2 linked regions of the Homo sapiens genome follow. The protein of the gene in region 1 purifies or fractionates together with the protein of each later gene. This does not show direct contact. Each region holds a gene or a part of one and is shown in the gene's direction. Other genes may lie near its edges.

Evidence for each region.
Region 2: the proteins of EBF1 (region 1) and ZNF423 purify together in Homo sapiens (affinity purification with western blotting; one study listed by BioGRID). This does not show direct contact.

Annotation. Positions count from the first base shown.
Region 1 is NC_000005.10:158,704,776-158,708,508, reverse strand, and holds part of EBF1 (transcription factor COE1), read left to right. Parts: intron 1-335; coding exon 336-530; intron 531-872; coding exon of another isoform or gene 873-940; exon of another isoform or gene 941-941; intron 942-3,733. UniProt on the Homo sapiens protein: Key pioneer transcription factor of B-cell specification and commitment. Recognizes variations of the palindromic sequence 5'-ATTCCCNNGGGAATT-3'.
Region 2 is NC_000016.10:49,635,904-49,639,636, reverse strand, and holds part of ZNF423 (zinc finger protein 423), read left to right. Parts: intron 1-762; coding exon 763-3,733. UniProt on the Homo sapiens protein: Transcription factor that can both act as an activator or a repressor depending on the context. Plays a central role in BMP signaling and olfactory neurogenesis. Associates with SMADs in response to BMP2 leading to activate transcription of BMP target genes.

The DNA of each region.
Region 1 (3,733 bases):
GGTGCATTTGGATTGGTTAGTGCCTTGGGCTGATGACCAGGGGTCATTTTCCCTTAATGACAATTGCTGCTGATGACCCTAGTGCCTAGCACACTGCCTGGCACACAGTGGCCCCACAATAAACACATAAAAGATCTCCAGTAATGAAAGGTAGCACGTGCTAAGTTCTGTATAGTGAAAGTGGATGAGAGCCTGCGAATTCAGGGAAGGTTTGTGCTGGAAGCATCGTCTGAGCAGGGCAGAGCAAGGTGGCTGGGTGAGGGATGGATCTGAGCTTCTTTGCTTCAGGATGCCATGAAAGGCACTGATTTCTCCTTTCTCATTGCCCCTCTCAGTAGTGCCATCCAGCCCCACCATGGCCTCCTCCACAAGCCTCCCCTCCAACTGCAGCAGCTCCTCGGGCATCTTCTCCTTCTCACCAGCCAACATGGTCTCAGCCGTGAAACAGAAGAGTGCTTTCGCACCAGTCGTCAGACCCCAGACCTCCCCACCTCCCACCTGCACCAGCACCAACGGGAACAGCCTGCAAGGTAAGCCCCAGGCCCCACCTGCCAATCCAGATTCAATGCCCTGACTTCACCCTCCCAGGGCCTGAAGCAGATGCATCACCATTGCTGAGGGTATCAGCCTTGGGCCCTGCCTGATTCTCTCTGCCCTCATCTCTTCTGTTCCTTTGTATTTGCTCTCCTCAACCCTGGCCCTTGGCCCTTGGCCATACTCATCTCTCCTCTGCTGGAGGTGCTCAAGAAGTCCTCTTTCCAACTTCAGCAATTCTGCTCAGGCCCGGGATTTGCTTGGGAATACTGTTTCTACTGACTAACAGCATCATTTCTCTTTTCTCCTCTTTCACTCCTTGTGGTCGCCATTATCAGATCAGTCTTTTGTGGACTCTAGCAAGTTCTCCAGTGCAGGGTCTCTCCCGGGACTGGCCTTCTCCTGAAGTAGGTCACTCAACCTTCCCTTCCTGTTGCCTGTGTCAGAGTGAACGTGTGTGGGGCTGATAACAGGGAGGGGGTGAGCCATAACTTGATCAGAGCCCTGAAGTTAGATCATCATAGACCAAAGGCCAAAGACTTCCTACTGGGATTAAGAAACCCCAGAACACCACTAGAGTATTCTGATTCATATTAAAATTGTTCAATCGCTTTCCCACCATTGCATTTGGAAAATAAAATAGTTGCTAAGAGTTGAGATGACCTTTTCATTAAGAATAAAAGGTTACCCACCTTTTAAAACTGAGCACACCATTTCTTACATTTTTCTTATGAGCTTAGCACTCTGTTGTGTGTCATATGTTGAGACCTGCACAACCTCATTCATTGCCCCCAGCAGGATTGTGTGGTAGGTACTCATATCTGCTATTTGACAGATGAGAAAACTAAAGGTTAGAGAGGTTATGAAATTGCCTGACTTTTAACAGCTGATACATGGCAGAAGCTGGCTTCAAATTCAGACTGAAACATTCATCTCCTAAATACTTTATTATTCAGAGGTGCTAAAAGAGACATAGCCAGGGTTCCTAAGGCAGCTGGTAGGGAGATAAGATTAGTAAACTAGTCAACCACCATTTATTGAGCACTGAACAGTGTACCTGGGGCTGTCCTATGCATGGAGCAGATTTTATACCATTTAATCCTCACATCTTCCTAAAGTATGAGGGCCATTATGGTCTTCATTGTGCAAATGATAAAATGGAAGCTTAAAGAGGGTAAATACCTGACCACAGACATAGTCGGTTAAACGGTGGAGATGAATGTAAGCCCCATCAGAGTCTGTGCCCTTAAGCCCAGCCATACAAAGTTTCCCACAGTGTCTTCCCTTGGTGGCTGGCATCTCACTGATGGAGGTCAGCCTGGAAGTCAGGGAGGGGTGAGGAAGGCAGTGCACATGTCTGGGATATCTCAGCCCTGTTTCTTATGTACAAGTACATGCATATTTCTACTTGTCTACACATACTGTGTGCTGGATGCTTTACACTGTGATGAGCATATAGTGATTCTCCTGAAGACCGTATGATGTCAGCACTAGTCCCATTATACAGATGGGAAACTTGAGGCTTAATTTGATCCAGGTCACATGGCTAATAAATAGTACAGCTAAACTGGAACACAAGCCATGTGACCCCAGAGCCTGAGCACCCGATCACGTTGTCTTTCTGCCTCCAGGAGGACTCTTCAAAATACTCCTCAGAACCTTGCTTGCAAATCTGCCCAGCACAGCCCAGACTCAGCGCCCCACAGAGCACGCCGCTCTTCCCCACTCTAACATACAGTGGCAAATCCATCTTCTTAGAGGAAAGAGGAAAAAAAAAAAAAAAGCGTGCCTGTGCAACTGCATTTCAGGCAATATTACTCATGATAGAAAATGCCCACCTCCACAAAGTAGAGCCACCCATTCCTGCAAATCTCATTCTCTTTCAGCTAAAAATAATGCTTTGTCACCCTCAGTACACCTCCAGCTGGCAAACTAGGGATATAATGCTTGAGCGAATATAACTTATAATAGGTTTAAATAATGATCATACATATGGAAAGCAGAAATTTACCATTCTTGAGCTGCCAATCTCAGCCCTTGCTAAACATAGATTTGACATCAGAAACAAGATATGATGGGGTTTATAATCAGCAGTTGACGGGAAGCACTGGAGAAGAAAAGGCCCCCACTATTGGAAGGTCAGTGGCTCTATCATAGGCCAACAGTGACAGAAGTGGGCAGCTCCCAGGAGGCCCGATGTCTTCTCATGCCCTGTGGTCCTAGGAAGGAGCAGGAAGTGGTTGGAAACAGGGGCTGGGCTCAGATCTTATGACTTCCTGGGTTTCAGGAGATCTGGTTATCAACTGAAAGCCAGGATCTGGATGAGGGTATGTGCCTGTTTAAGTCATGATGAAATGGCTTCAGGACAGGGATATATACAAAGTTTGTGCATTTGTCCTCCCAGGGATTTTCCAACTCAATTCTTACCCAATTACAGATCCCAAAAGTACAGAGACTGTCCCCATTTCTCTGAATAACTGCTGAGTCTGTGCCTCTCTGTCACCTTTCCTAACACAGGGCCACAGTGTGGGAGGTTTGAGGTCTGATTCAGGGACACACCTTGTGCTGGATTCACTGTTGTGGATGACACTGCCCTTTCCTTCTGATTGAACAAATGTCAAGGAGACTTTTTTGGATTTTCCCCTATCCCATGCCCTGACTATTGAGCATGATAAAACAACTATAAAAAGAATGGACTGGGCGTGGTGGTTCACACCTGTAGTCTCAGCACTTTGGGAGGCTGAGGCAGGTGGATCACCTGAGGTCAGGTCTTTGAGACCAGCCTGGCCAACATGGTGAAACCTCGTCTCTACTAAAAATACAAAAATTAGCCGGGCCTGGTGGTGCAGCCTGTAGTTCTAGCTACTAGGATGACTGAGGGAGGAGAATCACTTGAACCTGGGAGACAGGTTGCAGTGAGCTGAGATCGTGCCACTGCACTCCAGAGCAAGACTATTTCAAAAAGAAAGACAGAAAGAAAGAAAATGGTTTTTGGTTTGCTCGTACTGTCATATACCAAATATCCCTACTTTTGAGATGTCAGTGATGGACATACGGATGGAGAAATTAAAGTCAAATTAATGTAAACATCTCACTTTAAGCTCTTCTTTCTGCCCACTGCACCCCCAGGTGCTGTGCTGGCAGGTGGGGCCCACACTCTGGGACTTGCCTCTTTAGCCTCTGCACACAATCTCCAGCA
Region 2 (3,733 bases), on another chromosome or scaffold:
CCTGGGTGGGGTTGGGGCAAATCCAGGGGTGCAGTGGGAACAAAGAAAACAAGGGTCTCAGGATGGCCTGGGCCAGGAAACCCACAGATGCCTCTTCAGTGCCCTAGGTTCCCTTCCCACCTGAGCACTGAAGTCTGCTGTCTCTTGCCCTGTGATTTCACACCTCCTATGTCTTGTCTACCACCTGAAGCAGCAGCTTCCAGCTCCATCAGTCCACCCATACCCAGAGAATGGTGCATTCTATGGCCAATCTGATAAGGGCATTTTTGTTGTTGCAAAATTTTGCCTGTGTTCATAAGGACCAGTGGGATTTCCTTCCCTCCAGGATTAGGGATTTGAGGGGAGTTGACTCCCAGGTGTGGATCAAGTGACAGGACTTGTCTTCCTTTTGGCCTATGGGACTGGTGGTCTGTGAGTTCGTTTCCAGTGACTTTGTCCAGGCTGCCCCTCCTTTCCCTATCAGGAAAGTGGCCGAGAGCCTCCCCTCTGATGGGGGGTATCATGTCCTGCCAGGTCCAGGCAAGTGTTGTGAAGGGAAAAGGCGCTCCCCCTTCATTATCTGCCGCCCCTCTGGCGTGCCCTCTGCAGACAGGAAGGCCCTGGTGTCCACTTGCTTCCGGCCCCTGCCCCTCCCCACAGCCCCCTGCAGCCGTTGGCCAGCTGCACAGCCTCAGCCCGCGTGCTGTCGAGAAGCTGGCTCTGTCCTTGTTTCTCGGCAGCCCTGGGAATTGCCTCTAATATCCTCTCTGCCTTCTCTTGCAGATGGTGATGACGACCCACAACTCTCCTGGGTGGCCTCGTCTCCCTCCAGCAAGGATGTTGCGTCACCCACGCAGATGATCGGAGATGGTTGTGACCTCGGCCTCGGCGAGGAGGAAGGGGGCACGGGCCTGCCATACCCTTGCCAGTTCTGCGACAAGTCCTTCATCCGCTTGAGCTACTTGAAGAGGCACGAGCAGATCCACAGCGACAAGCTGCCGTTCAAGTGCACCTACTGCAGCCGCCTCTTCAAGCACAAGAGGAGCCGTGACCGGCACATCAAGCTGCATACGGGCGACAAGAAGTATCACTGCCACGAGTGCGAGGCAGCCTTCTCCCGCAGCGACCACCTCAAGATCCACCTGAAGACCCACAGCTCCAGCAAGCCCTTCAAGTGCACTGTGTGCAAGCGCGGCTTCTCCTCCACCAGCTCGCTGCAGAGCCACATGCAGGCCCACAAAAAGAACAAGGAGCATCTGGCCAAGTCGGAGAAGGAAGCCAAGAAGGACGACTTCATGTGCGACTACTGCGAGGACACCTTCAGCCAGACGGAGGAGCTGGAGAAGCACGTGCTCACCCGCCACCCGCAGCTGTCCGAGAAGGCGGACCTGCAGTGCATTCACTGCCCTGAGGTCTTCGTCGACGAGAACACACTGCTCGCCCATATCCACCAAGCCCACGCCAACCAGAAACACAAGTGCCCCATGTGCCCTGAGCAGTTCTCCTCAGTGGAAGGTGTCTACTGCCACCTGGACAGCCACCGGCAGCCCGACTCCAGCAACCACAGTGTCAGTCCCGACCCTGTACTGGGCAGCGTGGCCTCCATGAGCAGCGCCACACCCGACTCCAGCGCCTCTGTGGAGCGTGGCTCCACCCCGGACTCCACCTTGAAGCCGCTGCGGGGGCAGAAGAAGATGCGGGATGACGGGCAGGGCTGGACCAAGGTGGTCTATAGCTGCCCCTATTGTTCCAAGCGGGACTTTAACAGCCTGGCCGTGCTGGAGATCCACCTGAAGACCATCCACGCGGACAAGCCCCAGCAGAGCCACACATGTCAGATCTGCCTGGACTCCATGCCCACCCTCTACAACCTCAACGAGCACGTTCGCAAGCTGCACAAGAACCATGCCTACCCTGTGATGCAGTTTGGCAACATCTCTGCCTTCCACTGCAACTACTGCCCCGAGATGTTCGCCGACATCAATAGCCTGCAGGAGCACATCCGCGTCTCCCACTGCGGCCCCAACGCCAACCCCTCTGACGGTAATAATGCTTTCTTCTGCAACCAGTGCTCCATGGGTTTCCTTACTGAGTCCTCCCTCACCGAGCACATCCAGCAGGCCCACTGCAGTGTGGGCAGTGCCAAACTAGAGTCTCCGGTGGTGCAGCCCACGCAGTCCTTCATGGAGGTCTATTCCTGCCCCTACTGCACCAACTCCCCCATCTTTGGCTCCATCCTGAAACTCACCAAGCACATCAAGGAGAACCACAAGAACATTCCACTGGCCCACAGCAAGAAGTCCAAGGCCGAGCAGAGCCCAGTCTCGTCCGATGTGGAGGTGTCTTCCCCGAAGCGGCAGCGGCTCTCAGCAAGCGCCAACTCCATCTCCAATGGGGAGTATCCTTGCAATCAATGCGACCTCAAGTTCTCCAACTTTGAGAGCTTCCAGACCCACCTGAAGCTGCACCTGGAGCTGCTGCTGCGGAAGCAAGCGTGCCCCCAGTGCAAAGAGGACTTTGACTCCCAGGAGTCCCTCCTGCAGCACCTGACAGTGCATTACATGACCACGTCGACCCACTATGTGTGCGAGAGCTGCGACAAGCAATTTTCCTCGGTGGATGACCTGCAGAAGCACCTGCTGGACATGCACACCTTTGTGTTGTACCACTGCACCCTGTGTCAGGAGGTCTTCGACTCCAAGGTGTCCATCCAGGTGCACCTGGCGGTGAAGCACAGCAATGAGAAGAAGATGTACCGCTGCACGGCCTGCAACTGGGACTTCCGCAAGGAGGCTGACCTGCAGGTGCACGTCAAACACAGCCACCTGGGCAACCCGGCCAAGGCTCACAAGTGCATCTTCTGTGGGGAGACCTTCAGCACCGAGGTGGAGCTGCAGTGCCACATCACCACACACAGCAAGAAGTATAACTGTAAGTTCTGCAGCAAGGCCTTCCACGCCATCATCCTGCTGGAGAAGCACCTGCGGGAGAAGCACTGTGTGTTTGATGCTGCGACCGAGAACGGCACGGCCAATGGGGTACCCCCAATGGCCACCAAGAAAGCTGAGCCTGCTGACCTGCAGGGCATGCTGCTTAAGAACCCTGAGGCACCTAACAGCCATGAGGCCAGCGAGGATGACGTGGACGCGTCGGAGCCCATGTACGGCTGTGACATCTGTGGGGCGGCCTACACCATGGAGGTGCTGCTGCAGAATCACCGGCTGCGGGACCACAATATCCGGCCGGGCGAGGATGATGGCTCACGCAAGAAGGCTGAGTTTATCAAGGGCAGTCACAAGTGCAACGTTTGTTCACGGACTTTCTTCTCGGAGAACGGGCTACGGGAGCACCTGCAGACGCACCGGGGCCCTGCCAAGCACTACATGTGTCCCATCTGTGGTGAGCGCTTCCCTTCGCTGCTGACGCTCACCGAACACAAGGTGACCCACAGCAAGAGCCTGGACACGGGCACCTGTCGCATCTGCAAGATGCCCCTGCAGAGCGAGGAGGAGTTTATTGAGCACTGCCAGATGCACCCTGACCTGCGCAACTCACTCACGGGCTTCCGCTGTGTGGTCTGCATGCAGACAGTCACTTCCACGCTTGAGCTCAAGATCCATGGCACCTTCCACATGCAGAAGCTGGCGGGCAGCTCAGCGGCGTCCTCCCCCAATGGCCAGGGGCTGCAGAAGCTCTACAAGTGCGCCCTGTGCCTCAAGGAGTTCCGCAGCAAGCAGGACCTGGTGAAGCTTGA